2 separate regions of the Homo sapiens genome follow, and region 2 is linked to region 1. The links come from fine-mapping of genetic effects on gene expression. Tissue or cell type: lymphoblastoid cells. Region 1 holds a variant in brackets; the other region holds the start of a gene. All regions are shown on one strand. Distances are from middle to middle.

Region 1 (4,269 bases):
GGAGGTAGAGGTTGCAGTGAGCCAAGGTTGTGCCATTGCACTCCAGCCTGGGTGACAAGAGCAAAACTCCATCTCAAAAAAATAAAAAAAATGAGTTGTACGTATCTTCACATTTCTAAGGGCATGTCCAATGTCTTGGCAGGGTTAAAAAGACATCATAGTCTGGTGAAGTACCCATACTCCAAAACTAGTGCAAACTTCACAAGTTTCATTGCAAATCCCTTACAAAGAGCACAGGGTATGTATAAGCAGCATTGGTTTCTCTTCTGAAACCCTGGACACTAGAAGATAAGTGAAGATTCCAGAAACACAAAGACTCTGATTTCAGGATTTGATGCTCAGCAAATATATCATTCACACATATGAGGAGAGAGTAAGCATTTTCAGACCTGTTAGCATTCAAAATTTGTATTCTTTCTGGAAAAACTGCCCAAGAGAACATAATAGTAATTTCTTACAATGGAAGTATGAGCCATGTCCCCAAAAGACATCTAAAAGGACACTCATAGAAGCATTAGTCATAAGGGGCCAAAACTGGATACAGCCCAGCAGTCCATCAATAATAAAATGTATAAACAAAATGTGGTACATCCATAGTGGAATACTACTCAGCAATTTACCAAACATTAACTACTGATACATGCAGCAACTTGGATGAATCTCTAACACATTATGTTGACACAGAAAACCATAGACTATATGATTCCATTTATATGAAGTTTGAGGACAGAAAAAAAACTTATGATGATAATCAGGATAGTGGTTAACTCTGGGAGATATTAACCAGGAAGTGGTACAGGGTTTTGGAAATATATTTTCTGTTGACCTGTGTGATGGATTTTTATATATGGACATTATATATTTATATATTTAGACATATATAAAAAAACTCATCAAGTTGTGAAGTTGAGGACTTTATGCCTATATATATGTTTATGTGTATATATATGTTTAAAGCTTATATAGTTTATGTATATAAAGGTTACATATAAACTTTAATTTAATTAATTAATTTTTTGAGACAACAGTCTCACTCTGTTGCCCAGGCTGGAGTGCAGTTGTGTGATCTCTGCTCACTCCAGCCTCTGCCTCCTGGGTTTAAGTGATTCTCCTGCCTCAACCACCTGAGGAGCTGGGATTACAAGCAAGCACCACCACACCTGGCTAGTTTTTGTATTTTTAGTAGAGACAGAGTTTCACCATGTTGGCCAGGCTAGTCTTGAACTCCTGATCTCAAGTGATCCTAATGCCTTGACCTCCCAAAGTACTGGGATTACAGGTGTGAGCCACCGTGACTGGACTAAACTTTAATTTTAAAAGTTTTAAAACGGCCGGGCGTGGTGACTCGTGCTTGTAATCTCAGCACTTTGGGAGGCCGAGGTGGGCGGATCACGAAGTCAGGAGATCAAGACCATCCTGGCCAACATGGTGAAACCCCGTCTCTACTAAAAAAATACAAAAATTAGCCAGGTGAGACGGTGCACGCCTGTAGTCCCAGCTACTTGGGAGGCTGAGGCAGGAGAATTGCTTGAATCCAGGAGGTGGAGGTTGCAGTGAGTCGAGATTGCGCCACTGCACTCCAGCCTGGGCGACAGAGTGAGACTCTGTCTCAAAAATAAATAAAGAAAGAAATAAATAAAAGTTTTAAAACTATATGCAAGCTGGCCGGGCACAGTGGCTCACGCCTGTAATCCCAGCACTTTGGGAGTCCAAGGTGGGCGGATCGTGAGATCAAGAGATGGAGACCATCCTGACTAACATGGTGAAACCTCGTCTCTACTAAAAATACAAAAATCAGCTGGGCATGGAGGCGAGCATCTGAAGTCCCAGGTACTCGGGAGGCTAAGGCAGGAGAATCACTTGAACCCAGGAGGCAGAGGTTGCAGTGAACCGATATTGCGCCACTGCACTCCAGCCTGGCGACAGAGTGAGAGTCCATCTAAGGAAGGAAAGGAAAGGAGAGGAGACGGGAGGGGAGGGGAGAGAAGGGAAAGGAAAGGAAGAAGGGAAGAATAGAGGGAAGAGAGGAGGGAAGAGAGAAGGAGAGAAAGAAGGAAAGAGAGAAAGAAGGAAAGAAAGAAGGAAAGAAGACCTATATGCAAGCTGATGGGATGATGGGATCCAAAGGACTTATGCTGCCATTTTAAACAGTCTCCAAACAAAGACAAAACAAATGCCTCTGCCACTGCTGTGCTATGAGTCAGGATGCTTGCTGGGCTGGTAGCAGCTAACCCACGTCATCAGATAATGTTTACTCACATGCCTGGAGAGTTAGCCAGAATAGCTTCAGGATCAGTATGAGCCAGCAGCTCAACAATGTCTCCAAATACTCAATTTCCTTCCACCCTTCCCCTCAGTGGTCTGCAGTATTGATTATTCTTAAATTGGCTCCCACTGACAGCCTTATGGCTCAGCTTCTT[C/CT]TTTTTTTTTTTTTTTTTTTTTGGAATGAAGTTTCACTCTTGTTGCCCTGGCTGGAGTACAATGTCGCGATCTCGGCTCACTGCAACCTCTGCCTCCCGGGTTCAAGCGATTCTCCTGTCTCAGCCTCCCGAGTAGCTGGGATTACAGGCGCCCACCACCACGCCCGGCTAATTTTTGTATATTTAGTAGAGACGGGGGTTTCACCATGTTGACTAGGCTGGTCTTGAACTTCTGACCTTAGGTGATCCACCCGCCTCAGCCTCCCAAAGTGCTGGGATTACAGGTGTGAGCCACCACGCCCGGCCAATATGGCTCAACTTCTTTCAAGAGACTGGGCTTTTTTTTTCTGTATTAGTTTCCTATCACCACTGTAACAAATTACTACAAACTCAGTGTCTTAAAACAAGAGATAAGAGAAATATTAAAGTAAGACAAATAGATTCTCTCATTTCTGGAGGCCGGAAGCATGAAATCCATACCTGGGCCAAATTCAAGCCTTGGAGGCTCCAGGAGAGAATTCATTCCTTGCCTCTTCCAGCTTATGGTGGCTGCTGGCTTTTTTTTTTTTTTTTTTGAGACGGAGCCTTACTCTGTTGCCCAGGCTGGAGTGCAGTGGTGTGATCTTGGCTCACTGTAATCTCCCCCTCCCGGGTTCAAGCGATTCTCCTGCCTTAGCCTCCCGACTAGCTGGCATGACATGCGCATGTCACCACATCCAGGTAATTTTTGTATTTTTATTTTTAATTTAATTTTATTATTTTTTTATTTTTTGAGACAGAGTCTTGCTCTATCACCCAGGCTGGAGTGCAGTAGCACGTCTCAGCTCACTACAACCTCTGCCTCCTGAGTTCAAGCCAGTCTCCTGCCTCAGCCTCCCCAGTAACTGGGGTTACAGGCGTGCAACACCACGTCCAGTTAATTTTTAAATTTTTAGTAGAGACAGGGTTTCATCATATTGGCCAGGCTGGTCTCAAACTCCTGACCTCGTGATCCACCCCCCCTTGGCCTCCCAAAGTGTTGGGATTACAAGCGTGAGGTACCCCGCCCGGCCTATTTTTATTTTATTTTTTTATTTTTTTGAGAGGGAGTCTTACTCTGTCACCCAGGCTGGAGTGCAGTGGTGTGATTTTGGCTCACTGCAACCTCCGCCTCCCAGGTTCAAGCAATTCCCTGCCTCAGCCTCCTGAGTAGCTGGGATTACAGGCGCCTGCCACCATGCCTGGCTAACTTTTGTATTTTTAGTAGAGACGGGTTTTCACTATCTTGGCCAGGCTAGTCTTGAACTTCTGACCTTGTGATCCACCCGCCTCAGCCTCCCAAAGTGCTGGGATTACAGGCATGAGCCACTGTGCCCAGCCAACTTTTGTATTTTTAGTAGAGACGGGGTTTCATCATGTTGGCCAGGCTGGTCTCAAACTCCTGGCTTCAGGTGATCTGCCTGCCTCGGCCTCCCAAAGTGCTGGGATTACAAGCATGAGCCACTGCGCCCGGCCTGCTGGCATGTTTTGACTTGTGACTGCACAGCTCCAGTCTCTGCCTCCACGGTCACATCACCTTCTCCTTTTCTGCCTATGTGTGGTCACATCTGTCCCTGCCTCCCTCTTGTAAAGATACATGTGATTACATGCACAATCCAGGATCATCTCCCCTCTCAAGATCTTTAAATACATATGCAGCCCCTGTCTCTACATAACGCAACATTCATAGGTTCCAAGAATTCAGGCCTGACATCTTTGGGGGACATTTTTCAGCCAAACACACTCTCCTAACTTTTAATCAAAGTCCTGGGCTTCACTCTCCGTCCATGTTCATTGCTTTGACACTTGTCATGGACAGGAGGGTGCCTTG
Region 2 (4,269 bases), 21 kb before region 1:
AACACTGCGCGGAAGGCCGCAGGGTCCTCTGCCTAGGAAAACCAGAGACCTTTGTTCACTTATTTATCTGCTGACCTCCCCTCCACTATTGTCCTATGACCCTGCCAAATCCCCCTCTGCGAGAAACACCCAAGAATGATCAATTAAAAAAAAAAAAAAAAAAAGAGAGGAAGGTAAAAAATTTCCCTGTTTCTTCTTTTCCAGGTTCAGATTGGCAGGAAAAAAAAATTACAAATAAAAAACAATTAGTTTTTTGAAAAAAAAAAAGTATACTTGGGTGTGATAATAACACTAGTTTTGTTTAAATGTTCAAATGTTCTTTTTGGCTGGGTGTGGTGGCTCACACCTGTAATCCCACCACTTTGGGAGGCCAAGGCAGGAGGACTGCTTAAGACCAGGAGTTCAAGAACAGTCTGGGCAACATAGTGAGATCTCATCTCTATAAAAAATACAAAATTAAAAAATAAGAACGTTACTTTTCTTATGAGATCCTGGCTGAAGTATTTCAGAGTGAGGTATGATATCTATAACATACTTCCAGTAACTCAGCCAAAAAAACTAAGTGTATGTAAATATATGTCTGTATCACACCTGCCTCTGCAACACCTGCTGTGTGTACAAGTGTGTGTAAAATATAAAAAGAAAACCCTATGTCAGAGGCGTTTGAACCAAAGCAAACCTCCATCTTAAATGGGGACTGGGTAAAATAAGGCTGAAACCTACTGGGCTGCATTTCCAGACAGTTAAGGCATTCTAGGTCATAGGATAACACAGGAGATTTGCACAAGATACAGGTCATAAAGACCTTGTTGATAAAACAGCTTGCAGTAAAGGTGGCTAAAACCCACCAAAACCAAGATGGCAACGAGAGTGACCTCTGGTCCTGCTCCCACTAGCACCATGACAGTTTACAAATGTCATGGAAACATCAGGAAGTTACCCTATATGGCCTAAAAATGGTAGGCATGAATAATCCACCCCTTGTTTAGCATATAATCAAGAAATAACCATAAAAATGGGCGACCAGCAGTTCTTGGGGCTGCTCTATCTATGGAGTAGCCATTTTTTTATTCCTTTACTTTCTTAATAAGCTTGCTTTCACTTTACTCTATGGACTCGCCCTGAATTTTCTTTCCCAAGATATAAGAACCCTCTGTTGGGTTATAGCTCGGGACCCCCTTTCTGGTAACACCTATGCATGTGTCTCAGGCAGGGAGAAGATAAAGATAAAGCTAATGTGGCAAAAAGTGTTAATAATTTTAGAATCTGGATGGTTTTAGAAGTGTTAAACTATTCCTGCAACTTCTATGCAAATGCGGAACTTTTCAAAATGAAAAGTTGGGTGAAGAGAGAGGTAAACAAGCAGTAGAATGGAGGAAAGTCACTTGCTGTGGGAAAAAAGAAAAAACAGACAAAAACTGGGTATTCAAAACGTACTTCAACAAGCCCAAGTTCCTATAGCCAAATTTTTTAACTTGGCAAAAAATAAAGGACCTTTTCAGGCTGATGGTAATTTTAATAAAGGTTTAGGTTGCATTTGTCAAAATTCATCAATGGTACAGGGAATATCTGTGCATTTCACTGAAAGTCAATTTTGGCTCAAAAAATTTAAAAAAGCACTACTGAACTCTAATTCATGGTAAGCATAGTGAGGTGTTTGAGGGAGAAGTGTTGTGATATCTGCAACTTACTTTGAAATGTTTCCAAAAATAGGTGGATTAATGAATGGCTGAAAGGATGGACAGAAGGAAAGATAAGGGATACAGTAAGTTCAGCAGACGTTAACCGGGTCGTTCACTGCACAAGTCTTTCAGCTTCTCTATCTAAACCAACATTTTATGTCATAAAATATTGAGACTGGAAGACTGCACAAAGGAAATATGCCACTAAACCAAGGGAAAAGACAGCAAAATGGTCACTAAACACGTGCAAAAATGCGGCCCTCACTGAGAATTGCAGTAAAACATGATTTTGCAAATATCAAATGGAAAAACACACAGGTGATCTAACACCTTCGAGACTCAAGGGGAAGCGGCTCAGCCCACTGGCTCACGGCCGCCAATTCAGCCGGAGGCCGACCCAAGCCTACACTGCCCCTCACACCTGACAGAAAAGCTGCAGACTCGGGGGTTACCCCCGGAGACGGACCAGGACACCCAGCAGGCGTGGCAAAACAGTCTCTATGGGAGGGCGGGCTAGAGATGCGAGCGCGGAACTCACGGGTGACGCTAAGGAAAGAGCGGGGGCGTCCAGACCAGCCCCGGAGCGACCTCGTCCTCAGAGGAGTGACCCCAATCGCCACGGAGCGTCCCCACCCACCAGGAGAACTACGCCCCTGGCCAGACCCTCGCCCTAGCGGGCCCGACATGCCCACCACCCAGGTGAAACCCACCCGCGGACGCGCCCCTCGCCGCCCCACAAGGACCCGGCGGACCTCCACCCGCCAAGACTTCCCTCCGCAGGAAACGGAGGCAGCGCAGGGCTCAGGGATGCGTCGGCACTTACGGTTGGCGGCCGGCGGCAGCCATGTTCCGGGCGATTGCGCTTGCGCGGCTGCCGGGACAAGGATGTGCGCGTGCGCGGAGTCCCCGAGCTTCCCCCGCCCAACGCTGGGGCGGCCGCGGGTACCGGGTTATTCATTACCCTGGCGTGGACTTGCCTCGGGGCGGACGCGCAGGCATTTACTTTCTCCTATGGTCTCCTCTGATTTTTAACCCGATGCTATCATTCTTTTGTTATAGAGCCTTCCTTTTATTTACTGCATAATTTCCTAAAATATTTCTTTATCTATAATCTTTTTTTGAGATAATAATGTTAAAATTCAGAATAAGTACACTCATTATTCATTGGCAATATAATTATTTACTGGGTGCGTGGCTCACGCCTGTAATCCCAGCATTTTGGGAGGCCTAATTTGTTAAAATGACTAGATCTAAGAAATGTAAACAAAGCCAGTAACTTTCCTCTGTAGTAACAATAGCCGGTTGAAAATGAAAACTACACATTTTCATTCTTTCAGTGGTTCTCTTAAACTTTAGCATGGGGAAGCCTAAATATTTACTGACAGGGAAGAGAGAAACTGTGGTATGTGCAACGGAGCAATAGGGGGTGGTTAAAACAAACGGACTGGGCTCACCTAAGGTCAGGAGTTTGAGACCAGCCTGGCCAACATGGTGAAACCCCGTCTCCACTAAAAATACAAAAATTAGCTAGGCGTGGTGGCAGGCGCCTGTAATCCCAGCTCCTCGGGAGGCTGAGGCAAGAGAATCACTTGAACCTGGGAGGCGGAGGTTGCAGTGAGCTGAGATCGTACCATCACACTCCAGCCTGGGGGACAAGAGGGAGACTTCGTCTCAAAAAAAAAAAAAAAAAAAAGGACTAACTTATATACAAGATAGACAGTTCTCCAAAAACAGTTCGAAAAGTAAACTGTGCACTTATCCACATGATACAACTTACCTGGAAATAAAAGACACAAAATCTATATGTTATACAGAGATTGATACATAAGTAGTAAAGTAACAATAACATGGACCAGATAGATTGTCCAACCTCAAGAAAGTGGCAACTGAGGGGAAAGAGTTGGGGAGGAGACAAAGGAGACCTCAGTTACACCTGTGATGCTTGATAGGAAAAAACAAATCAAAACCTGAAAATCTGACTACATGTTAACACAGGTAAAATCTCGATGATACATGGGTGTCATCTTTATTATTTATAGATTATTCTATTACTCTCCGAACCTCTCCGCAGGTTGAAATACTTCACAATTTTGAAATGAAAATTAGAAAAAAAATTCTAAGCCATAATAGTGATTAAATTGTCACTCACAATAGTGATGGTTGGAGCAACTTGGAAATCAATTAGCAAAAGCAATAAAGGATCTTCATGAAGAAAATACAAAAACCTCATTAACAGACCTGAAGTTAAGTTCAGAACACACTGACATATTATTCCTGAATGGAAAGTATTTTTTTAATTTCTCCATGAAGGCCGTATCAGACCAGGCACAGTGGCTCATGCCTGTAATTCCAACTCTTTGGGAAGCCGGGCTGGGGGGATCACCTGAGGTCAGGAGTTCAAGATGAGCCTGGCCAACATGGTGAAACCCCATCTCTAAAAATATAAAAATTGGCTGGGCACAGTGGCTCATGCCTGCAATCCTAGTACTCGGTCTCAAAAAAAAAAAAAAAATCTTCACAAAACTACTAAACAAAAGTATAGCAATTCCAATTCAAAGACTCCCCCCGCCCCCAGCTCACAGAATAA

The links. PIP is the estimated chance that this variant, and not a neighbour inherited with it, causes the effect. A credible set is the group of variants that fine-mapping cannot tell apart.
Region 2: it holds the start of ZNF329, and the variant in region 1 is the best candidate, but not a certain one, in a credible set for the expression of ZNF329 in lymphoblastoid cells (TwinsUK, PIP 0.55).

The regions. Positions count from the first base shown.
Region 1 is chr19:58,168,866-58,173,134 of GRCh38, forward strand. The region is part of intron 1 of LOC124904784 (a long non-coding RNA gene); the gene reads left to right. Among named protein-coding and RNA genes, the nearest start is that of ZNF274, 12 kb to the right of the region's middle. The variant C/CT (reference allele first, on the strand shown) is at 2,421.
Region 2 is chr19:58,148,247-58,152,515 of GRCh38, forward strand. It overlaps ZNF329 (zinc finger protein 329), which reads right to left and starts at 2,543. Exons shown (of 4, transcript NM_024620.4): 1 at 2,506-2,543. RefSeq lists an enhancer at 2,620-2,679.